Linked DNA regions of Homo sapiens. The protein of the gene in region 1 purifies or fractionates together with the protein of each later gene. This does not show direct contact. Each region holds a gene or a part of one and is shown in the gene's direction. Other genes may lie near its edges. The genes, in order: SLC12A8, CPT1A, DAGLB, STK40, ACAA2, ANKRD27 and CRY1.

The links.
Region 2: the proteins of SLC12A8 (region 1) and CPT1A purify together in Homo sapiens (affinity purification with mass spectrometry; one large-scale study listed by BioGRID and IntAct). This does not show direct contact.
Region 3: the proteins of SLC12A8 (region 1) and DAGLB purify together in Homo sapiens (affinity purification with mass spectrometry; one large-scale study listed by BioGRID and IntAct). This does not show direct contact.
Region 4: the proteins of SLC12A8 (region 1) and STK40 purify together in Homo sapiens (affinity purification with mass spectrometry; one large-scale study listed by BioGRID and IntAct). This does not show direct contact.
Region 5: the proteins of SLC12A8 (region 1) and ACAA2 purify together in Homo sapiens (affinity purification with mass spectrometry; one large-scale study listed by BioGRID and IntAct). This does not show direct contact.
Region 6: the proteins of SLC12A8 (region 1) and ANKRD27 purify together in Homo sapiens (affinity purification with mass spectrometry; one large-scale study listed by BioGRID and IntAct). This does not show direct contact.
Region 7: the proteins of SLC12A8 (region 1) and CRY1 purify together in Homo sapiens (co-immunoprecipitation; one large-scale study listed by IntAct). This does not show direct contact.

Annotation. Positions count from the first base shown.
Region 1 is NC_000003.12:125,087,249-125,090,748, reverse strand, and holds part of SLC12A8 (solute carrier family 12 member 8), read left to right. Parts: intron 1-2,378; coding exon 2,379-2,439; intron 2,440-3,500. UniProt on the Homo sapiens protein: Cation/chloride cotransporter that may play a role in the control of keratinocyte proliferation.
Region 2 is NC_000011.10:68,831,917-68,835,416, reverse strand, and holds part of CPT1A (carnitine O-palmitoyltransferase 1, liver isoform), read left to right. Parts: intron 1-3,500. UniProt on the Homo sapiens protein: Catalyzes the transfer of the acyl group of long-chain fatty acid-CoA conjugates onto carnitine, an essential step for the mitochondrial uptake of long-chain fatty acids and their subsequent beta-oxidation in the mitochondrion.
Region 3 is NC_000007.14:6,430,955-6,434,454, reverse strand, and holds part of DAGLB (diacylglycerol lipase-beta), read left to right. Parts: intron 1-1,495; coding exon 1,496-1,618; intron 1,619-3,500.
Region 4 is NC_000001.11:36,375,925-36,379,424, reverse strand, and holds part of STK40 (serine/threonine-protein kinase 40), read left to right. Parts: intron 1-3,500. UniProt on the Homo sapiens protein: May be a negative regulator of NF-kappa-B and p53-mediated gene transcription.
Region 5 is NC_000018.10:49,793,034-49,796,533, reverse strand, and holds part of ACAA2 (3-ketoacyl-CoA thiolase, mitochondrial), read left to right. Parts: intron 1-652; coding exon 653-769; intron 770-2,106; coding exon 2,107-2,254; intron 2,255-3,500. UniProt on the Homo sapiens protein: In the production of energy from fats, this is one of the enzymes that catalyzes the last step of the mitochondrial beta-oxidation pathway, an aerobic process breaking down fatty acids into acetyl-CoA.
Region 6 is NC_000019.10:32,637,181-32,640,680, reverse strand, and holds part of ANKRD27 (ankyrin repeat domain-containing protein 27), read left to right. Parts: intron 1-295; coding exon 296-374; intron 375-1,192; coding exon 1,193-1,325; intron 1,326-3,500. UniProt on the Homo sapiens protein: May be a guanine exchange factor (GEF) for Rab21, Rab32 and Rab38 and regulate endosome dynamics.
Region 7 is NC_000012.12:107,083,550-107,087,049, reverse strand, and holds part of CRY1 (cryptochrome-1), read left to right. Parts: intron 1-3,500.

The DNA of each region.
Region 1 (3,500 bases):
AAAAACAAAGCAGGGTAGCTATATTAACATTAGGCAAAGTAGAGTTTGGAGAAAAGAATATTACAGTGATAAAGAGGGTGATTTCATGAAGCTGAAGGGAAAAATACATCAGGAAGACATAACAAAGCTTAACATTTATGCACTTAAAAACACAGCTTTGAAATACACAAACCAAAACCTGATAGAACTACAGGAAGAAATAGAAAAGTTCACAACCATAGTCAGAGATTTCAATACCTCCTTCCTAATAATTGATAAATAAGTATACAATCAGTAAGTCTACAGAAGACTTGAATAACACTATCAACAAACCTGGCTTAATTGACAGTTAGAGAACATTCTACCCCAAAACAGCAGAATATATGTTCTTTTCAATTATACATGAAACATTTACCAGGAGAGACTATATTCTAGTACATAAAAAATATTTCAATAAATTTAAAAGTATTCAAGTCAATTCAAGAACAGAGTATGCTCTCTGACCAGAGGGGGAATAATTAGAAATAAATAACAGAAAGATATCAGAAAATCCTTGAATAAGCCAGGCACAGTTCGCACACACCTGTTGTCTTAGCTACTTGGAGGGCTAAGGCAGGAGAATTGCTTGAGGCCAGGAGTTTGAGGCCAGCCTGGGCAAAATAACAAGACTCTGTCTCCTAAATTAAAAATTAAAAAAAGAAAAGAAAATCCCCAAATATTTAGAAACTAAAGAATATTACATAACCCTAATTAAAATACAGAAAATAAATAATCCATGATTCAAAGAAGAAAGCAGAGTGAAATTACAAAGTATTTTGAACTGAATAAAGGTGAAAATGGAACAGCAAAATTGTGGGATGTAGCTAAGGAAAATTTATAGCATCAAATGCTTACGTTAGAAAAGAAGATCATTTGCAAATCAGTGATCCCAACATCCAACTTAAGAAACTAGAAAAAGAAGAGCAAATTAAACCCAAAGTAAGAGCCCAGTAGGCAGAGGTTGCAGTGAGCCGAGATCAAGCCATTGCACTCCAGCCTGGGCAACAGAGTGAGACTCCGACTCACAAAAAAAAAAAAAAAAGAGAAAAAGGTTCTTCAGAATTAGAATAGTCTGATGCACTTCAAACACTTTGAAAGAAATGCACTTCAAACATTTTAAGTCGTGTGTATTAAAAATAATGATTTAGAAAACAGTAATGTTAAGAAGAGGTCCTTATGTTAGCTGACTTCATGGATAGAATATATTTTAATTAACAGTGATTACTTCAGTGATTGCTTCTTTATTTCTTAAAAAGTAGTTTGATCTTAAGAAATTTCAATTATTTCCTAGAAATCTATTCATAGGAAAACATGAAATCAAATTTCAGGCCAATGTCCATCTAAAATTCAAATAATTTAGAATCTAAATTATCACACTTAAGTAGGGTGAGTTAATAAAATATGTTTATTTTCTTCCTTCTGACAATCTCAAAATGTATTAGAAATCTTCTCTTTGCAATTGCAAATGCAGATCTAAAATTTATCTTCCCTTTAGCCATAAGGGCCTAAATGATATTGAGGAAACAGGTTATCAGCTGCATACTGTTGATATTTGTGGAGATTTTAACATAAGCCTCTTAAAATAATGCTATTTTCCTGATCATATATTGAACATTATCTAATCAATCAATTTTCAATCATATGTATGTATAATTTAGGAAAGCATTTTCTAAAATCACATTTGATTTGTTTCTCTAAAGTTATATATAATTTACTATGTGAATTTTTTTAAACCTACACCAAAGGAGGAATGGATTTTTTTCAATTGATAAACCCTATTCAAATCTGTGTGTTTGATGTCAGGATTATTTGGCTAGAATCAACAACAATGTCACTTCAAACTTCAGCTCTAACATTTCTACATGTGGAACTATTTGATTCACTTAACACCTGTTAAAAAAATTCTTAAGTGCCAGATCCTGTGAGGTACTGTGATGATTATAAGGATGAAAAAGACATGTTCCCAATTCTCAGTGTATGGTCTAGTAGAAAATTTTATGGCGTGTATTCAACACTTGTCAGTATGAATCTTAAAAAATTTATCAAAGTTTTTTAATTCTTAAGACTAAAGTTAGCAAGTCTCTGCATTTGTCTTTATAGCACTTTATCCAGTTTTTTGGGAGTGATTTTGGAGTTTGGAAATAAACTTTTGAAGGATTCACATGAGTAAAAGTCCTTAGTAGGCTGCTGTCATGGAAGATTACAATGAAAATTATTTGTTTAGACTGAAAAAGGAAAACATTTGTGTTAATTCTGTGCGTGTGTGTGTATTGGGGTTTGCATTCACCCTATTAAAACTGAGCTTCTAGATGCCTTATGTAGAACCTTCAAAAATGGTTATGTATATGTCTTCCCTGCAGGATCAGCCTCCAACTTCAGCTTTTTCCGGTGGATGAGGTCTCTCTTGCTCCCCTCCTGCAGGTCTGTGCCAATTTGGAGCCAGTACCAGAATGGATGAGTGTCCAGAGTCCTGGGAGGTGCCAAGGGTGTCCCATTCCTGGCTGGGCTTGGGCCTGGATTGTGGCATGGGAACCTAACAACTGGGCACCTCCGGGAGACTCAGATGTTGCTCCTGCGTGCACTCCACCACACTCGGCCCCCAGATTCGGCTCATCAGAAGCTTCCTCTAGGCTCATGTCCTCTTCCCTTCTTATCCTCAGTCATCAAGAACAGAGGCTTTATTTAGAATCTGGTTGCTGGGGTGATAAGTCACTACTCTCAGTGAGTTTACAGTCTAAGACACATTCACATCAATGCATAATCACACACAAGATTAAAGCCCAAGGGAAATGTAACGCCAGGAAGCACATTCTTCCATCTGAGTCAGAGGTAGTTGACATGACTGGGTTGGGGACAGTGCAGAGGCCAAGTATAGAAATAAAGTGGAGATCCTGGAGGATTTCTGTGGGACCTCTATGGTCAGATATACAGGAAAGGAGAAAAAAAACTTTCCTGAGAAATAGAAGCCTCATAGAGAGGGTATATTTCACATGTGCCCTAATCTCACTCCTTCTCCTCCACTCTTGCAGTATCACTGCTTCTTACCTTTTAAGGCCCTGGGATTCTGGGGAATTACACCCACCCTCTGTCCCCTTTCAATATCAGTGAGGAGCTAGAGCTGCAGGCTAGGAAAATCCAGGCAGAACCCAACCGAGTGTTCATTTGGTTGCATTTTGTTGGTTTGTTTTTGAGACTCTAGATGTCCGGGTTGTACTTGCTAATATTTCCACCCTGCATGTTCAGACATTGCTAGTGGATCATGGGATCCTTTCCCATTGATCCCAGATGTAACTTCATAATCCTTTTTTCTCCTCATTTTAAAAATTATGGTAAAATAGGGCTGGGCGTGGTGGCTTACGCCTGTAATCTCAGCACTTTGGGAGGCCAAGGTGGGCAGATCACCTGAGGTCAGGAGTTCAAGACCAGCCTGGCTAACATAGTGAAACCCCATCTCTACTAAAACTACAAAAATTAGTTGGGCA
Region 2 (3,500 bases), on another chromosome or scaffold:
TGTGCAAAGGTGAAGAATATGCATGGGAGATACAGGGGACACCGCTCCTGTTGTCTTAGGGACATTTGTGGGAACAATATACTGGTACGAAGAGGAGGTTTAGGATGTCCTTTGGGCAGGTGCAGGTCTCCTCCTTGCAGTCTGAGCTCCTGCCCGAGTGCCGATGCTGGCTAGAGGCAGGGCAGGCACAGTGGGAAAGAAGTAGCAGCTGTTAAACTTCTGGTGGGCTTCTGAATAGCTAGGTCAGATAACTGGGTCTGTCAATACGTTGGCTATCTTCTTTATAAAATTGTGAATCTTTGTGGCTTTTCCAAATTTTTTTTCTAAGATCATATTTGTCTGTATTTATCTAACCATTACTTATTGACGTGGTGCACTATAAGGTCTAAATTTGAATTGGCTTAATTTTTTTTTTTTTGAGATGGAGTCTCGCCCTATCGCCCGGGCTGGAGTGCAGTGGCGCAATCATGGCTCACTGCAACCTCCGCCTCCCCAGTTCAAGCAATTCTCCTGCCTCAGCCTCCCGAGTAGCTGAGATTACAGGCATGCACCACCATGCCCAGGTAGTTTTTGTTTGTTAGTAGAGACAGGGTTTCATCATGTTGGCCAGGCTGGTCTCAAACTCCTGACCTCAAGTGATCCACCCAGAATTGGCTTAATTTTTACAGTACTTGGTAAGACAGGGTCTCGCTCTGTCATCCAGGCTAGAGTGCAGTGGCGTGATCATAGCTCACTATAACCTCAAACTCCTGGGCTCGAGTGATACTCGCAAGTAGCTGGGACCACAGGCATGCACTACCCACACCTTGGCTAATTTTTGTATTTTTTGTAGAGATGGGGTCTTGCTACATTGCCCAGATTGGTCTCAAATACCTGGGCTCAAGCGAACTTCCTGCCTTCGCCTGCCAAAGTATTGGGATTACAGGCATGAGCCACCATACCCAGTCCAGAATTCCTTTTATTTTATTATTTTTATTTTTTGAGACGAAGTCTCCCTCTGTCACCCAGGCTGGGGTGCAGTGGCATGATCTCGGCTCACTGCAACCTCTGCCTCCCGGGTTCAAGCGATTCTCCTGCCTCAGCCTCCCGAATAGCTGGATTACAAGTGCCCACCACCACACCTGGCTAATTTTTGTATTTTTACTAGAGATGAGGTTTTGCCACGTTGGCCAGGCTGGTCTTGAACTCCTGACCTCAGGTGATCCACACGCCTCAGCCTCCCAAAGTGCTGGGATTATAGGCATGAGCCACCGTGCCCAGCCCAGAATTCCTTTTATAACCTGACGACCCATTATATTGACCCCATAAATGTGAATAGTCCATTATGATAAACTTCAGTACAGGAAATCCACTGTGTGGCCAATTTAAATAATGTGAATATTGAATGATCAGTCATGAATTCAAGACGCAACCTTTCATAATGAAAGCTCCAGGCTGGGTGTAGTGGAGCACACCTGTAGTCCCAGCTTAGGCTGAGGCAAGATGATCTCTTGAGCCAGGAGTTCAAGGTCACGCTCGGCAACAGAACAAGACCCTGTCTTATAAAAAAAAAATAATAATGAAAATCCTTCACCTTTCTTGTACATGAAACCCTCCGAAAAACATAAGGTGAGTCTTACATTCTCACTTCTAAGGTGCTTCCATCAGGTTTGGGAAACAATTTCTTTTTTTTTTTCTTTTTTGAGATGGAGTTTCGCTCTTGTTGCCCAGGCTGGAGTGCGGTGGTGGGACCTTGGCTCACTGCAACCTCCACCAACCAGGTTCAAGCAATTCTCCTGCTACAGGTGCCCACCACCACACCCAGCTAATGTTTTGTATTTTTAGTAGAGATGGGGTTTCACCATGTTGGCCAGGCTGGTTTTGAACTCCTGGCCTCAGGTGATCCGCCCACCTTGGCCTCCCAAAGTGCTGGGATTACAGGCGTGAGCCAACACGCCCAGCCAAGTTTGGGAAACAACTTCTGTTTGTGTGTATACACATTTACTGGAAAAGTACAAGGGCACCATTACAGATGTGCATATCTGCAATTGAATAACGATGTGGCTCATACAGTGCAGAGAGCGCACACCCACACTTGCCTGGAGAAGAGGAGCTGCTGCTTTTCTTCCTTCCCATTATTGCTAATTTTTGCCTGCATCTCAGTTCAGAAGAGCCATGAACTTTACTGCACATGTGTGCTAGTTCTAGGGAACCCCCTGGGCTGCTGCTGTCCTTCCAGAGCCTTCCTGGTACTTCCCTTGAAGTTCTTTGGGCAGCAGTGAGGAGGCCAGGCCAGATTTTTGCCACCTTGGACATCATGCATGTTGTGAAGGTGGTTTCCCCGAGCTGGAGCCAGTCCCGGAGGCTGGCACTAGCTTTCTAGCGAAGCAGAATCTTCCCAGGCATTGGTCACCCGGGCATCCAAGAATGTGTTGTAGATGATGAGATAACTGCCCTGCCCTTCGCCAGAGACACTGCTTCTGACCCTGCCTACAGCGCCTTCTCCAGTTTTTCCAGGGATGAGGCCCATGTCATCCAGCCTCACACTTTCTCTGTTCCTAGAGGCCCTGCCTGGTATTCCTGCTGAGCTAAGCTGTCGCTTCCCATGGGTAACATTTTCTCAGAGGATTTCCAACATAGTTGTTTACCGCTGGAGGAGATGGGCAGCTGTTAGCTAGGTTTGAATAGAAAGCAGAGCCTGCTCCTGTGTGCATGGGCACTGTGCAATGCTAGTGGGAAGACTGCAGCATGTGAATAATTTTACAGTTGGCACTGATGGTGTTTATACTTACTGGAGTTTTATTGCTGGCTGCAATCTCATCATTTTGGTTACAACAGTGACCTAATTTTATATCTGTGTTGTAACTTTAGGAATCCTAAGTAGAACTTTTTGTGTAGTACCTACCACTTTACTTTGGGAGTTAAGAGTATAAGTTTTGGAGTTGGACCTGGGTTTTTGTTTGTTTGTTTGTTTGTTTGTTTGTTTTTGAGACAGAGTCTCGCTCTGTCACCCAGGCTGGAGTGCAGTGGTGCAATCTTGGCTCACTGCAACCTCCACCTGCCAGGTTCAAGAAATTCTCCTGTCTCAGTTTCCCTAGTATCTGGGACTACGGGTGCATGCCACCAAGCCCAGCTAATTTTTTGTATTTTTAGTAGAGACAGGGTTTCACCATATTGGTCAGGCTGGTCTCGAACTCTTGAGCTCAGGTGATCTGTCCGCCTTGGCCTGCCAAAGTGCTGGGATTAGAGGCGTGAGCCACCGCACCTGGCCTGGGCCTGGGTTTGATTTCCAGCCCTGCTATTTGCTGGCTGTGACACTGGGCAAGTTTCTTGACATCTAAGCCCTGGTTTTCTCATTAGTACATGGAGATAGCCCTAGTACCCATTTCCTAGGGTGCTAGTGGGAATTAAATGATCTAATGCTAGTCAAATACATCAATATAAAAATATATATGGGTCACATTGTCTAGCATATGCCAAAGGGTTTGGTAAAAAGAATGTTCTGGGTCGGGCACAGTGGC
Region 3 (3,500 bases), on another chromosome or scaffold:
TTTGCAGCTGCTGTTGAGCAGATACCAAGCACAGGCAGTGGCATGAATCGAGGTTGGAATCAGATAGTGAGTGACTTCTTACCACTTTGTATCATGATGGAAATGATCGACGATGCTACTTTTGGAAGACAGTTTGAATAGATGATTGCAGCACAGAAGGGAGCGTCATTCTAGAGCGAGTTCTTCCGCAATTTGAAAATGCTTGTTTTTTTTTTTTCACATGCAGCGTGTCATCTTTTTATATGACATTCTCTGCTAAATGCTGTTAAATTCCATACTGAGATGAGGTAAGGGAGGAAGAGTTCTCTGCTTATCCTGCACACCTGCCAGTCTCTCTTCCCACCTCTGTGCTATCCGACTTGGCACCATTCAGGGCTGGTCCTGGAGCCTGACACCAAGTCATAGCAGCAGCCTCCGTAGAGGGAAGAGGGAAGCGTGTCCCCTCAGTAACTTAAAGAAGTGCTTAAACCTAGTCTTAAGATATCTGGAAGAGGGAAGAAGAGAAGCTGGTTATTTCTAGAGGATGTCGTAATCTACATCACAGGCAGAACTGATGGCTCAGTGGCTGAGTGGCCAGTATATTGTCTTTTTTTTTTTTTTTTTGAGACAAGGTCTCGTTTTGTCACCCGGGCTGGAGTGCAGTGGCGCCATCTTGGCACAACCTCCACCTCCTGTGTTCGAGAGATTCTCCTGCCTCAGCGTACTGAGTAGCTAGAGTACTACAATAGCTGGGATGACAGGCACCTGCCACCACGCCCAGCTAATTTTTGTATTTATAGTAGAGACAGGGTTTCACCATGTTGGCCAGGCTGGTCTCGAACTTCTGACCTCAGGTGATCCGCCCACCTCGGCCTCCCAAAGTGCTGGGATTACAGGCGTGAGTCATCGCACCTGGCAGTATATTGTCCATTCTTACGGGCTACAAGTACCCGGAGGTGATTGAGAATTCCTAATTCCTCCATTTCCTGGAGAAAAAGGACATGTCAGGCCTAAGAAGACTCACTCTCTGTTGCTTTCCCAGCTTGGGGTCCTTTATGAGGCTTGCCATACCCTGTGAGTATGAGTTTAGTCTCATAAATCTCTACCATCCACTGTGTTTCAACAAAACCTTCCCAGCATCTTGAGAAATGAGAGTATAAACGTGGGCTAAAATGGTGCATTGCTACAAAAACGGACAATTTATCCATTGATTTCTCCACTTTACAAAATATTTGAAGTAGATTAAAAATAGTTGAGTCACATGAAGTGAAATTTTAAGACAGACGAATAGCATTTTTATATTCTCCAGTGGACTTGTCTGAGGGCAGGATGTGAAAACATATTCAGGTCACATAGAGAAGCACTCCTGCCAGGAGCAGTCTTTTTAACATACCTCTGTGTCTAGAAATGTCTGTGTGTGCGTGAATGCCTATCAACTATAGAAGACTGGATTTTAGGGAACCCGGGGGTGGTGCCTGCTGGGTTTTATGACAGGCCATTGTGGTTTCCCACCCAGGACACAGATCTGGTGCCCAGCGACATTGCGGCGGGCCTCGCCCTGCTTCATCAGCAACAGGACAATATCAGGAACAACCAAGAGCCTGCCCAGGTGGTCTGCCATGCCCCAGGGAGCTCCCAGGTGAGCCTGGCTTCATGGAGTGTCCAGTTCTGACACTTACACCTTTTGGTGGGTCTTCAGAATCATACAGCTAACCTATAGCAATTTCTTCCTCCCTTCCTTCATTCCCCTTTCCCCTCCCTCCCCTCCCCCTCCTCCCCTTCCCTCCCCTCTCCCACCTTTTTTTTTTTTTTTTTTAAGACGGAGTCTCGCTCTGTCGCCCAGGCTGGAGTGCAGTGGCACAATCGCGGCTTACTGCAAGTTCTGCCTCCCAGGTTCACACCATTCTCCTGCCCCAGCCTCCTGAGTAGCTGGGACTACAGGCGCCTGCCACCACACCTGGCTAATTTTTTTTCTTATTTTTAGTAGAGACGGGGTTTCACCGTGTTAGCCAGGATGGTCTCCATCTCTTCACCTCATGATCTGCCCACCTCAGCCTCCCAAAGTGCTGGGATTACAGGCGTGAGCCACCGTGCCCAGCCTCCCCTCCCCTTTTTTTCTTTTTCTTTTTATGAGATGGAGTTTTGCTCTTGTTGCTCGGGCTGGAGTGCAATGACACAATTGGCTCACCACAACTTCCACCTCCCGGGTGATTCTCCTGCCTCAGCCTCCTGAGTAGCTGGGATTACAGGCGCATACCATCACACTCAGCTAATTTTTTGTATTTTTAGTAGAGATGGGGTTTTGCCATGTTGGCCAGGCTGGTCTCAAACTCATGACCTCAGGTAATCTGCCTGCCTCGGCTTCCCAGAGTGCTGGGATTACAGGCATGAGCCACCACACCGGGCCTATTTTTCATTTTTTTAACTTTTATTTTAGGTTCAGGGGTACATGAGCAGGGTTGTTACACCGGTAAACTCATGTCACGAAGGTTTGTTGTACAGATTATTTTGTCACCCAGGTACTAAGCCTAGGACCCTACAGCAGTTTCATTAGCAGCAGGGTTGGAATCTGATTGGCGGCTTCCACTGGTTGTATTGCATCACCTGTCAGGTGAGGCATCTTCGTTATCAACTGGAGTTCAGGTAGTGGGAACCCATTCCTGGCCACTTTATCATCCATCATATCTTTATTTTTTATTTTATTTTTTGAGACAGAGTCTCTGTCACCCAGGCTGGAGTGCAATGGCATGATCTTGGCTCACTGCACCCTCTGTCTCCTGACTTCAAGCAATTCTCCTGCCTCAGCCTCCACAGTAGCTGGGACTACAGGCGTGCACCACCATGCCCAGCTAATTTTTGTATTTTTAGCAGAGACGGGGTTTCACCGTGTTGGCCAGGCTGTTCTCAAACTCTTAGCCTCAAGTGATTTGCCGGCCTTGGCCCCCCAAAGTGCTGGGATTACAGGCGTGAGCCACTGCATCCGGCCACATTTATCATATCTTTGAAGGCTTATGTTTTAGGAAATTTGCTGTTCAATTCTATGCATTAGAACAATTCCTCCTGGGATGGGGACTGCGATTCTCCCTGGGTGTGTTTGCTTTCTTCTCTGGGGCTGGGGGCAGAAGCAGTTCAGCTTTGCTTGGTGATAATTTTCCTGCCACAGGTTGTTATGTTTTTGAGAAAGAAAATTGCACGTAGACGGTATGTATCTTCGCTGCTCCGGGTTAAGCCACTCAGTTCTTGACAGCTCGTGTGTGGCAGTGGCATGGAAATGTACTAGTTTCAGGCATCTAGATAGGAAGCGCCGGCTCATTTCAGCAAAAACAGCAGAGAAGTCATTGGAGTGTTTTTTACTGTTAACTTCCCCGTGCTTGCTGTGTTCCTATAAAATGAGGAGTCAGGCTGGGCGTGGTGGCTCACGCCTGGCTTCCCAGCACTTTGGGAGGCCAAGGCAGGTTGATCACCTGAGGTCGGGAGTTCGAGACCAGCCTGGCCAACATGGTGAAACCCCGTCTCTACTA
Region 4 (3,500 bases), on another chromosome or scaffold:
ACTCCGTTTCAAAAAAAAAAAAAAAAGAGGCTACAACCCAACGGTGTTCATTCTCTCCTGGCCATGACAGTCAGTCTTGGGTGTGAGTTCAGGCTCCCCAGAACTTAGCAGTCTACAGGCCTGACGGTTTCAAAGGAACTCTAGTTGTTGGAAAGCACCAGAGGTAGAAAAACTGAGAAGGGGTCTTGGCATGCAGAATAAAGCTGTCCCCTCTAAATATGTTTACACACTGCCACCTACTTGGCAAAAGAGATAGAAGATCTTCAGCCTTTAGGAAGTCTGGATGCAAGGGTCCAGAAGGAAGAGAGAGTGGACTGGTCATTGTAGTGGGAATTGGCAAGAGCAGGACTGATGTGCTTGTCATTTCTCTCTGGGGCAGAGCTGATGTGAGGTGTGTTGAGGGGACAGCAGTGCTTCTAGGGAGAAGCTCGGTTCAGCGCCTTGGGGACCTTGGGCCTGGTGTAGCCCAGCATTCCGTGGGGCTTTTGGAATCCTGTTGCTGGCATCTGCCAACCCTGGGGAGCAAGAGTCCTGCTACTTTTTGCAATAAGTATGGCGCTTCCAGCATTACTGAGTTTGGGGTAAGTTTCATAGTGTGTGTTCTTTTCTGACTCCTGGAGTGGTCCCTTCTGAAAAAACAGGAAGGAAACCAGCAAAAAAAGGAGGCCCGGCTGGCACGGTGGCTCACGCCTGTAATCTCAACACTTCGGGAGGCCGAGGCGGGCAGATCACGAGTTCAGGAGATCGAGACCATCCTGGCCAACATGGTGAAACCACATCTCTACTAAAATACAAAAAATTAGCCAGGCGTGGTGGCGCACGGCTGTAGTCCCAGCTACTCAGGAGGCTGAGGCAGGAGAATCGCTTGAACCCAGGAGGCGGAGGTTGCAGTGAGCCAAGATCGTGTCACTGCACTCCAGCCTGGTGACAGAGCAAGACTCCGTCTCAAAAAAAAAAGAAAAAAAGCCCCACCACCTCCCAGGTCCTTTGTAATACTGCAATACGTTATTGAATCTAAGGAAGTAAGGGTTGTCTCTTATTTTACAGAGAACACTCAGGCTCAGAGCGGGGTAAAAAGACTGTCTACTATTACACAGCCAGTAAGGGCAGAGCTGGGATTTCCAACTCACATTTGTGTGACTCTAAAGCCCATGTTCCCTTCCTCCATCCTGGCTAGGCTCTGGTCCCAGGGAGTCCAGCCCACATAGAATCTTGGACTCATAGAGCCAGCCCCAAAGCTGAACCAGTCCCTTTTTTTGCCTGAAAAATGGAAACTGCCACTGCCTTGAGACAGGTCCCTCCCTGACCTGCCCTATGGGTAGTGGGCAAGGAGACTTGCAACCATGCAGTTAAGGGCCTAGGCTCAGATCAGATGTGGCTTCAGAACCTGAAGTGAGTGACCTTGAACAAGTCACTTCCTGTCTCCAACCCCAGCTTCCTCCTCTGTAAAATGGGCATAACAATTCTTGCCCTTAAGGTAGTCATGAGACACAGGGCTTTATAGCCTCTACCACGTTCAGCCTAGTGCATGGCAGGCAGGCAGGACCCAGGGGCCAGCTCCAGCAAGGCCCAGGTGAGCTCTTGGCAGTGAACCTGTGAGTGTACCAAAAGAGGCATCCTGAGCCAGTTTTCAGCCCTTATGGATGCCAGGGGGCAGGCAGGAAGTTCCTTATAGGCATGTTTGCAGCCTATCTGGAGAGCTGCAGGGGTGTTGTCTTTGTCCTTCTGCCTCTCACTCTTTTGCTGCACCATTGCATTGGCACACAAGCTCACACATCCAGGGCACTTATGCTTACACCTCTTCCCAGGCCATACTCTCTCAAGTCTGCCTTCTCTGAGGCTCAGCCTCCCCTGATTCCACTACTACTTTTTTTTTTTTTTTTTTTTTTTTTGAGACGGAGTCTCACTCTGTTGCCCAGGCTGGAGTGCAATGGCATGGTCTTGGCTCACTGCAACCTCCGCCTCCCAGGTTCAAGCAATTCTCCTGCCTCAGCCTCCCGAGTAGCTGGGACTACAGGCGAGTGCCACCACACCCGGCTAATTTTTGTATTTTTAGTAGAGATGGGGTTTTACCATGTTGGCCAGGCTGGTCTTGAACTCCTGACCTCATGATATGCCACCTCAGCCTCCCAAAGTGCTGGGATTACAGGCGTGAGCCACCACGCCTGGCTCCACTACTACTCTTAATAATTCTAATGGGTTCAGAAAATCTTTAGATTTTAAAAAAGTATTGTTAGTTTAATAGTTTATGGTACAATAGTTAAATAATATGGGAGAATATAAAATAAAGCTCTCCCTCCCCTCCTTGGGCCCTTAGTTCTATTGACTGGAGGTGTCCACTTAAATTTCTTCTAGGCTGGGCACGGTGGCTCATGCCAGTAATCCCAGCACTTTGGGAGGCCGAGGCGAGTGGATCATGAGGTTAGGAGTTCAAGACCAGCCTAGCCAAGATGGTGAAACCCCGTCTCTACTAAAAATACAAAAAGCCAGGTGTGGTGGTGAGCACCTATAATCCCAGCTACTCGGGAGGCTGAGGCAGAGTATTGCTTGAACCGGGGAGGTGATAGTTACAATGAGCCGAGATTGTACCACTGCACTCCATCTCAAAAAAAAAAAAAAAAATTTCTTCTAGAAGTTGCCTATGCGTATTCAAAAGTGTGTATAATCTTTTTTAACCCAAGTAGGATTATGTTGTACATATATTCCTGCAGTGTGCTTATTTTGGTAACATAGACATCTTTATCAGCAGGTGTGGACCTAGTCGGAAAGGCTGCATAGTATCCATTGTCTAGCTGAACATAATTAGTTAACCAGTCCTCTCTGGATGGCCATTTAGATAGTTTCCTGCCTTGGGGGCATGTGTGTGTGTGTGTTGATTTTTATGGTTTTGTTTTTTGCTGCTACACGTGGCTCTATAGGGACTTTTGTTGAGCACATTATCTTTGTGAACCTGTGTGAGTATATCTGCAGGATCCATCCCCGGAACTGGCATTGCTGGGCCCAAGGCAGGTACATTTTCTTTTTCTTTGTTGGCTATGGTTTCACACCTTTTTTCTGCATACCTTCTGGGCTTGTGCAGAGCCTGGGAGGCCTGAGGTGGACCAGACCCTTCTCGAGACCTACATATAAGCAGACAGGTAATGAACACGCCCTCAATGCATGGACATAGTCTTTCACTGGTGGCTGCTGGCCCTCGTGATCTGCCGTGTCCAGCTCTTGGTGATTCAGAGCAGGTGAAGCCAACAGAGGGGCACTCTGAAGGGATCGCCTGCTCTTGGCTTTTCTAATCATACCAGGCAGCCTGTTGCCCCTCTGAGCAGCCATAGCCCTCAACATTCAGTCAAACTTCAGAAAGTGAATTGTATTGCTCGCTGTCAAAGTCGTGAATTTTTTTTTTTTTTTGAGATGGAGTTTTGCTCTTGTTGCCCAGGCTGGAGTGCAATGGCGCGATCTCAGCGCACTGCAGCCTACGCCTCTGGGGTTCAAATGATTCTCCTGCC
Region 5 (3,500 bases), on another chromosome or scaffold:
ATTTTATTACAAACAAAATAAGAGCCAGAGGCGTATTTTAATAAAACAATTTTCACATTAATTTGTTTCTATAACGATATATCTTAAATAGTGACCTCGGTTTTCCTAGTAATAATTTTAAGAACCATCAGGTTCATAGAGGCTCATTATTTGCTCCTTTTCTGAGAAAGGCAAACAGTGGAAAGTGTTGGAAGAATGAAGTGGTTTCCTTTTTATGAGTCACCTAGATTGAACTAGTTCTTGTAAATCTCTGTTCTTGTTCAGATACATCCATTAATGGGATAAATTTTTCTTTTGCCTTTTTAAAGGGTATGTCCTTTATTATCTGCTGTACATTTATGCCAGGTATTAATATCTGTTGATTTTCAAGATTTATATTGTGTTAAGAATTACTATTCTTAGCCACATGTAGGTAGGGCCTGTTACTCAGGCAAACATGATTGAAACCTTTTAGTTTTCTCCTCCTACATCTTGGTAATGGATACTTTAGCATTTGCTTTACAGTTACTTTAAAAGCATTTCCTTTTGAGACACTGTAAGCTACAGTACAATATTTGTTTGATTTACCATTAATTTGTAAAATCAGTGTGTTTCTTAATACATTGTTTGGGTACGGTAAAAGGAGTTTTTATTACTGTTTGTTTTTAAATAGGAAATTTGTGTTAAAGAAGCTGAAGTTGTTTTATGTGGAGGAACCGAAAGCATGAGCCAAGCTCCCTACTGTGTCAGAAATGTGCGTTTTGGAACCAAGCTTGGATCAGATATCAAGGTTGGAACCATAAAAATTTAAAAGAATTAGTTCTTATTAGCATTATATAAGTACTTTTAATAACATACCTTTTTATGGGAGAGAAAACTAATTTTGAAGCCAATTTCGTTGATGAGGATTGGCAAGATATGAATGATTAGAAGTTTGTAAACTATTTCAAAACTCTATTTTGGTGGTTAGTTTTGACATTTTAACCCATATGAAATTAGATTCTATCTATCTCAGCAGACCTCTAGTAGTATAATTATCCTGTGTAAGTGGCCATAGGCATGGGAGAGATGGAGGAAGGGAAGAAGTGGATTAAAAAGATAGACAAAAGAGTGAATTAATCTCACTACTAAACAATTAGTAATCTGAGTAATTAAATCTTTAACGTGACTTATAGAAGTTTTATTTCTGGGACAGTCTCAGAATAGATTTCTTCATCATCACAGAAAACATCTTTGAATACAGATTATATTGTCCCAAATCAAACAAAAACTGATTCTTTTATCTTTGAGAGCTACAACTTGAGAATGATGGTACAGTACTGATAAAGAATGATGTTTTCTTCTCATTCCCATGTGAAAGGGCTACTGACATTTTATATTTTTTAGCATTTTCTATAGTAATGTTTGACTCACACTGTTCACCCAGTTTCTCACCTGGCCTTTTTGGAAGTTGAAAGGAATGGGACTTAAGAGAATCTATGCGGATTTTAGCCACCAAACACATTTGAGATATCTTTTATGAAGACAGGTCAGTGAGTTAAATGTTGATGAGGCAGCAAAGTGGGGCACACTTACCAGAGACTAACTACTTGAATAATAATTAACAACCTTTCTGTAACTCTGGGAACCTGTCCCAAGATCTTTTCAGCCTCATAGTAACCGATAGAACCAGCTATTCCTGTCACTGAGGCGCAGGATGAAAAAGAAAAACAGATAATACTGTTTATTACAGAGCTCAGGGCTGGTTTACAAAGATGGCTATAAGAAAACATTGCATGAAGACTCATTGTCAGGTTTTCTACAAAATATGACCTTGAGGATTTAATTTTTGATCGTAGGGTAACTTCTGTGATCTCACCATGCACGTCTAGTCCTGTTAGCTGTTCTTAGACCCCCACATTTAGAGAGGGACAGAGAATGTGTGCATTTTATTTTGTGACATTGAATGTTTTCAAAAACATTGCATGTTTTTAAAAAATATCCCATAACTGAATATGAATAGTGGTTATCAGAAAGTCTTAATTTTACTTTTGTTTATTGGAAGTGTTGATTATTTAAAGAAATTATAACATATTACTTTTAAAAGGAAATGCCTTAACAAGTCACTTTATTAATGTCTTTTAATAGCTGGAAGATTCTTTATGGGTATCATTAACAGATCAGCATGTCCAGCTCCCCATGGCAATGACTGCAGAGAATCTTGCTGTAAAACACAAAATAAGCAGAGAAGAATGTGACAAATATGCCCTGCAGTCACAGCAGAGATGGAAAGCTGGTGAGTGAAACTGGAAAGTATCAGTATCTATAGAATAAATATCTATAGGAAATATTTTCATCATTTCTATTATGGTTATATAATATTTACAAATCATACCTTTAAGAATTATTACATCTTTTCATTATTCCTTTGTCTTTAGATGATCAGATATTTTATTAATTATTGCAAAATTAACTAGGAATTTCTCTTTTGAAAAAGTTAGTACTACTTAAAAAGTGGTATTGCTACTTGACCCTAGATGGACCCTTGAGTTTTGTGCTGAACTGGTCCTGTTGTCAGTAGAACATGATGAGGAATACGATACGTTCTGTCAGAGGTGATAGCTCACTGTGGCAACTGGAATATAGAGGATGTCCTCTCCCACAAGCCATATCATAATCATAAGAAGGGGTAATGTATTTGGAAAAGACCCACTGGGTCTTTTATGCTTTCCTTCTGCCACTCCTAATTAAGAATCATTGTACCTAACTCAGAGACTTAGAACTAGTCCGAGACTCTAGTTAGAGTGCCCTGGTGTAGCACAGCAGGTTGCTATAGAGCCGGTCCAAAACAGGCAAATGTGACAGCAGTTCTTTTAGCAGTGCAGCAAGTTGAAGAAATGTGATATTTAAAAAATTAAACTGTTAAAGCAAGTGGAAACTCTTATTTAGGAATATTAAATGCTTGAAGTAATGAGGATAAAGTCCATCTTAGCATTTCAGAAGGATAAGTGGAATAGAGCTGATGCCATCTAACTCGTGTGTTTTTTTACTTATATGTTCATAGTGGAAGAGGATTGGTCTAGAAGTCAAGAGTTATCAGTTCTGTTTCTACTTCTACCACGCACAAGTTATCAAGCTCAGTCATATCATTTATTCACTGAACCTCTGTAAGATAGAGATAACAATATTTGCCTTCCCTATTTATCTAATAAGGTTGTTTTAAAACCAAATAAGGGCATATAAGGAAAGTATTTTGCCAATTGTAAAGTGATATGAAAATTAAGGTTAGTATTATTCCTGACCCTATTTCCAAAGCTATAGATTACTACAGTACATTCTAGTCAGTGGAGGTCAAAGTAGGTAAGATGTTTTACTTATAATTGTATTAGTGATTGCTCCCATAATTTCTTCAGGTTGCCTATCACTATTAAGTTTCAGTTAGATTACTTTGTGGCATAGACAACTTGGTAACTTTTTAATTGCTTATCTCACCAAAAGAAGTTTAAAAGGGGTATTAAGTCCATTTATTGCCATTACATCTA
Region 6 (3,500 bases), on another chromosome or scaffold:
ATTCTCCCGTCTCGGCCTCCCAAAGCACTGGGATTACAGGCACGTGCTGCCGTATCTGGCTAGAGTTACTAATACCTTGTTTTGGTCATGTTCTGAAATTGCTGGGCATTCTTTTCCCCCTGGACCTGACATCTGATCAGGACGCTGTAAAGGAGCTTGTGCAATGACATTTCTCCCCCAGTGTATGATCTCCCTGATACGTGGTTTCACAAGGTGTGCGGTGGTAGGGAGTTGATATGCTTGTCAGTCCATTTGAATCTCATGATGGCATTGAATGTGTGTTTCCCCTTTGCAGTGAACCTGGAGACCATGTGTGCTGATGATCTGCTATCAGTCCTGTTATACTTGCTTGTGAAAACGGAGATCCCTAATTGGTAACATTTTCTTTTAAGATACTCTTTTGAAAATGGCAGTGCTTGGCCGGGCACGGTGGCTCACGCCTGTAATCCCAGCACTTTGGGAGGCCAAGGCGGGCGGATCACGAGGTCAGGAGATCGAGACCATCCTGGCTAACACGGTGAAACCCCGTCTCTACTAAAAAATACAAAAAAATTAGCTGGGCATGGTGGTGGGCACCTGTAGTCCCAGCTACTCAGGAGGCTGAGGCAGGAGAATGGCGTGAACCCAGGAGGCGGAGCTTGCAGTGAGCTGAAATCGCGCCACCGCACTCCAGCCTGGGCGACATAGCGAGACTCCGTCTCAAAAAAAAAAAATGGCAGCACTGCACTGTGGTAGTTCTAATGTAACTCTAGGAAAAGCCCATCTTCAATTGGACACCTGTTACGAGCTAGGTGTGGGGCCTCCCCTTGCTTCATCCATCCACTTACAGATGGGGAAACCAAGGCCCGGAGAGCTTACATTTCTTGTTCTGGAATGAGTGTCTAGACAGTGGTTGAGCAGAAAGCTGATTGCCATTCTTTCTGGCCCCAAAACCCATAATCTCTCCCCTGGAACCCACAGCTCAGTTTACGGTAATCAGCTTGCTAAAGACTATTTCAGGGAACTAGCTAGTCATTTTACTTGTGTTCCTAATCGCACACACTCTGCAGAGAGATCCAGGGGATGGTGGTCGTAGCTTCCTGAGCGAACCAACTGACTAGATATTTGATCAGTTGCCCAAGCCAATGATATTTTTTTTGCAGAAGTGTGACTTGGATAGACAACAACATAACTTTTTTCTTCCTTTCATTAGGATGGCAAATTTGAGTTACATCAAAAACTTCAGGTTTAGCAGCTTGGCAAAGGATGAACTGGGATACTGCCTGACCTCATTCGAAGCTGCCATTGAATATATTCGGCAAGGAAGCCTCTCTGCTAAACCCCCTGTAAGATCTCACCCCTGCCCTGGCCTTCCTTTGTGGGCATCATGGTTCCCTTGATAGGGTGCTGGGGTTGGTATGTGGGCAGACGGATTCTTAAATTGCCTCCCAGGAATGGGGCCTCAGCTGTTTGAGGGCTGTGAGTCTTAAAAATCACTCAGTGAAGAGAACACCAAGCCCTCAATTGGTGGTAAAAATTGGTGGGTTATCATTGGGATTTACATTGTTAATATCCTACTTCATTAGTCCCCATCCTCTCCAAAGACATGTGGGTGCAAAGGGAAGCCAGAAGTAGGGAATTTGGATTTCTTGACCTTGATAGTCAAGAAGTGATGTCACGGGATCCCTGGACTGTCGCTTTTCCAGCCGGAAACCTCTGTGGCTGGTGGCTCCTTTGCCTGAGTTTTGTTCGGGCCTGCTGGGCTCATTTCACGCTCTTGGCCTGGCAGGCTGCGCTCGGCTTGTGCTACTGGCCTGGATCCCATGCCTGCCAAGGGCGAGCCAGGTGTGGAGTGGCGAGGGGTATGTGAGCAAGTGCAGGGTCTGGCCACTGCACACAACCAGGTGTGCCGACTGAGGTGGGGTGGGCAGCTCCAAGTTGCTTGTACAGGGTCCTGCTCCATGCAAGGCTGCAGCTAGAGCAGGCGTACTGTAGGCCGCTTCCACGGTGGGCACTGGGGAACACAGTGGGGCCTGGAAGCTTGGAGACACCAGGAACTGCAGAGCCCCAAAGAGGGTGTCATAGCCCTGGCTCGGGGAACTCCTAGGTTGGGCTCCCTGAAGGGCCAGAGCTCTTCTCTCCTCTCGTCACCTGCAATGTAGTGAGTCGGGAGCATGTTTTAGCTCTCTTTATGTTACAGCTCTTTCAGTCCTGCCATTTGGTGGGTCCCGAGTTCTTGTCCCATGTCGAGGAAGAATGAGGTACGTAGACTAGTGGAGGGTGAGCAAGGCAGAGAGGAGCTTTACTGAACGGCAGAATAGCTCTCAGGAGACCCACAGTGGGCAGCTTCTTTCCACAGGCAGGTCGTCCTGACGAGTTAAAGAGGCCTGACGTAGGTAGCTCCTTCCTGCAGTTGGTAGTCCCGACATCTGTCTGAGTCTGGCTGAGTCCGGGGTTTTTTATGGCTCAGAAGGGAGGGAGTATGTGCTGATTGGTCCATAGGTGGGCCTGGAGAAAGCACCATGAGTTCTCAGTCTGGGTCGTGGACTCCACTTGGGACTGACAGCCCGGCCCCCAGGCTTTAGGCTGTCCCTGTCTTGAAGGTGGGGCTTCACTGGGCACCTGCACCTTTCCACCCAGAAGCGTGTCTGCCTTCTGCCACCATCAACATGCTGGCCAGTGCATCCAGGCTGTTTGTGCCAAGGGGCATCTGCAGGCCTGCACTGAGCTGCCCTCAGCCCCTACCTTGACTACTCTCCCATGCTCATCAGCGCCCAAAATCTTGGAGGGGTCTGAGGCATCAGGAGGCTGGTGTGTCAGTGTCACACCAAGCATGTGCACACATGGCTGGGTTGCAACAGTACCCGGGCTTGGCCTCAGCTTTGCTCTGAAATTGAAGTCGGTGCCAGGAGTGGGGAGGAGCGGGAGCAGGCACTTACGAGCCTGCGGCGGCAGGGATGCTTCCTGGGCCCCTGAGAGTGCAGAGATTCCTGGATCCAGAGCTGCGGCTGGGCGGCTGCAGCTGCGCCTGGGAGTGCAGGGCTCCCGCCCTGCCAGCTCAGTAGGAGATGGGGGCTCCTGCCTGTTCCTGGCTCCTGTTGGCCCTGCAGAGTGCACAAACCTGGCCGCGCTTCCTCCACTGCAGCTTACGTCTTTGCAGCAGCCACTCCCGATGGGCTGCCACTGCCATCTGTGAGACCATTAATGTGTGCAATTTGAGGACTCAGTGGCCTTGCCATTGTTTCCTTGGTTTTTATTGAGCATTGGCTGGGGTCGGCGAGGGGATGTGATTATATTTCTATGTGAATCGTGAGAATCTTGAACCATGGTTGTCCTGCTGGCCTGTTTTACTACATACCAATGAGTAAAATGTGATCATACAGAAATCACAAAGTTGAAATCTATAAAATGAAAAGATCTCTGTATTATAAGGTGAGAGTGCCAAGGATTGAACATTCATCTTTGTCAGACTTTGATGTAGAATCTCCCAAAATAATGATGAGCTAAAGCGTCTGGGAGAC
Region 7 (3,500 bases), on another chromosome or scaffold:
TTTTTCTTTTCTCTTTTCTTTTCCTTTCTTTCTTTTTCTTTCTTTCTTTGTTTCTTTCTTTTTCTTTTTCTTAACAGTATTTAACACATTTGACCACACCTTTCTCTTCTTCTCTTGGCTTTAGTTAGACTGCCACCACTGTGGGTCCTGGAGGGCAGTGCCCCTGTTCCCGCTGCTCTACAGTGAGTTCTCTGTGGGGACTGTAACCCCATATTTCCCCTTGGCACCAGCCTAGTAGAATCTCTCTGTAGGAGCTCTGCTGTGGCAGGCTTCTGCCTGGACAGCCAGACTTCTTGACATATCTTGTGAAATCTAGGTGGAAGCTGCCAAACCTCCATGGATCTTGTATTCTGTATACCTGCAGACTTAACACCACTTGGAAACCATCAAGGCCTATGGTTTGCACCCACTGGAGTGGCAGTCCAGACAGTACCTGGGGCCTTTTGAGCCCTGGCTGCAGCCAGAGCAGCCAGAACGTGGGGAGTAGCATCTCAAGACCGCACAAGGCAGCAACACCCTGGGCCTGGCCTCCCAAACCATTTTGCCCGAGGAGGCCTCTGAGCCTGTGATGGAAGGGGTAGCCTTGATTTCTGGAATGTCTTGGGGGCTTTTCCCCATTGTCTTGACTGTTAACAACTGGCTCTCTTTTATTCATGTTAATTGCTTTAACAACCTGTTCTGTCAGGGCCTGGTACCTGGGGCTAGGTAGTTTGGATTTCTCTCCTGAAAACTTCCCTCTACCACATGGTTAGGTTGTAAATTTTTCAAATTTGTATGCTCTGTTTTTCTCTTAATTATTAGCTTTAACTTTGTCTTTTTTTTGAACTCCCATATCTGATAGTAGGCTGTTAGAAGCAGCCATGTCACCTTTTGAACGCTTTGTTGTTTAGAAACTTTTTTTTGCCAGGTAGCTTAAGTCATTACTCTTAAGTTCAGCCTTTTACAAAGTCCTAGGCATGGATACAATGTAGCCAAGTTTTTTGTTAACAAGCATAACATATAATGTGGCCATTTTTTTGTTTTAGTTTTTAAAAATTTTATTTGAGATCTCATGAACGTGGCCTTTACTGTCTATATTTTAATCAGCATTTTTATCACAACCTCTTAACCAGTCTCTAAAAAGTTTTAAAGTTTTTCTTGTGTATGAGGTTTTTTGTTTTTGTTTTGTTTTGTTTTGAGTTCTCTAAGCTCTTGTAAGCAGCTTTAGTTTTTGCTTTTTTTTTAATACTTTAAGTTCTGGGATACATGTACAGAACCTGCAGGTTTGTTACGTAGGTATACATGTGCCATGGTGGTTTTGCTGCACCCATCAACCTGTCATCTAGGTTTTAAGCCCCACATGCATTAGGTATTTGTCCTAATGGTCTCCATCCCCTTGCCCCTCAACCCCTGGCAGGCCCCGGTATGTGCTGTTCCCCTCCCCGTGTCCATGTGTTCTCATTGTTCAACTCCTACTTATGGAGAACATGCGATGTTTGGTTTTCTGTTCCTATGTTAGTTTGCTGAGAATGATGCTTTCCAGCTTCATCCATGTCCCTGCAAAGGACATGAACTCATTCTTTTTTATGGCTGCTTCATATTCCACAGTGTATATGTGCCAGATTTTCTTTATCCAGTCTATCATTGATGGGCATTTGGGTTGGTTCCAAGTCTTTGCTATTGTGAACAGTGCCACAATAAACATACATGTGCCTGTGTCATTATAGTAGAATGATTTATAATCCTTTGGGTATATACCCAGTAATGGGATTGCTGGGTCAAATGATATTTCTGTTTGTAGATCCTTGAGGAATCACCACACTGTCTTCCATAATGGTTGACCTAATTTACACTCCCACCAACAGTGTAAAAGCGTTCCTATTTCTTCACATCCTCTCCAGCATCTGTTGTTTCCTGACTTTTAATAATCGCTGTTCTAACTGGCATGAAATGGTATCTCATTGTGGTTTTGATTTGCATTTCTCTAATGACCAGTGATGATGAGCTTTTTTTTCATGTTTTTTGGCCACATAAATGTCTTTTGAGAAGTGTCTGTTCATATCCTTCACCCACTTTTTGATGGGTTTTTTTTTTTTTGTAAATTTGTTTAAGTTCCTTGTAGATTTTAGATATTAGACCTTTGTCAGATGGATAGATTGCAAAAATTTTCTCCCATTCTATAGGTTGTCTGTTCACTCTGATGATGGTTTCTTTCACTGTGCAGAAACTCTTTAGTTTAATTAGATCCCATTTGTCAAGTTTGGCTTTTGTTGCCATTGCTTTTGGTGTTTTAGTCATGAAGTCTTTGCCCATGCCTATGTCCTGAATGGTATTGCCTAGGTTTTCTTCTAGGGTTTTTATGGTTTTAGGTTTTACATGTAAGTCTTTAATTCGTCTTGAGTGAATTTTTGTATACAGTGTAAGGAAGGGGTCCAGTTTCAGTTTTCTGCATATGGCTAGCCAGTTTTCCCAGCACCATTTATTAAATAGGGAATCCTTTCCCCATTTCTTGTTTTTGTCAAGATCAGATGGTTGTAGGTGTGTGGTGTTATTTCTGAGGCCTCTGTTCTGTTCCACTGGTCTATGTATCTGTTTTGGTACCAGTACCATGCTATTTTGGTTACTGTAGCCTTGTAGTATAGTTTGAAGTCAGGTAGCATGATGCTTCCAGCTTTGTTCTTTTTGCTTAGGATTGTCTTGGCTATACAGGCTCTTTTTTTGGTTCCATATGAAATTTAAAGTAGTTGTTTCTAGTTCTGTGAAGAAAGTCAATGGTAACTTGATGGGAATAGCATTGAATCTATTAATTACTTTGGGCAGTATGGCCATTTTCATGATGCTGATTCTTCCTATCCATGAGCATGGAATGTTTTTCCATTTGTTTGTGTCCTCTCTTATTTCTTTGAGCAGTGGTTTGTAGTTCTCCTTGAAGAGGTCCTTCACATCCCTTGTAAGTTGGATTCCTAGGTATTTTATTTTCTTTGTAGCAGTTGTGAATGGGAGTTCATTCGTGACTTGACTCTCTATTATTGGTGTATAGGAATGCTTGTGATTTTTGCTGATTGATTTTGTATCCCGAGACTTTGCTGAAGTTGCTTATCAGCTTAAGGAGTTTTGGGGCTGAGGCAATGGAATTTTCTAAATATACAATCATGTCATCTGCAAACAAAGACAATTTGACTTTCTTTCTATTTGAATACCCTTTATTTCTTTCTCTTGCCTGATTGCCCTGGCCAGAATTTCCAATACTATGTTGAATAGGAGTGGTGAGAGAGGGCATCCTTGTTTTGTGCCAGTTTTCAATGGGAATGCTTCCAGCTTTTGCCCATTCAGTATGATATTGGCTATGGGTTTGTCATAAATAGCTCTTATTATTCTGAGTAACGTTCCATCAATACCTAGTTTATTGAGAGTTTTTAGCATGAAGCGGTGTTGAATTTTGTCCAAGGCCTTTTCTGCATCTATTGAGATAATTGTGTGGTTTTTGTCATTGGTTCTGTTTATATGATGGATTACATTTA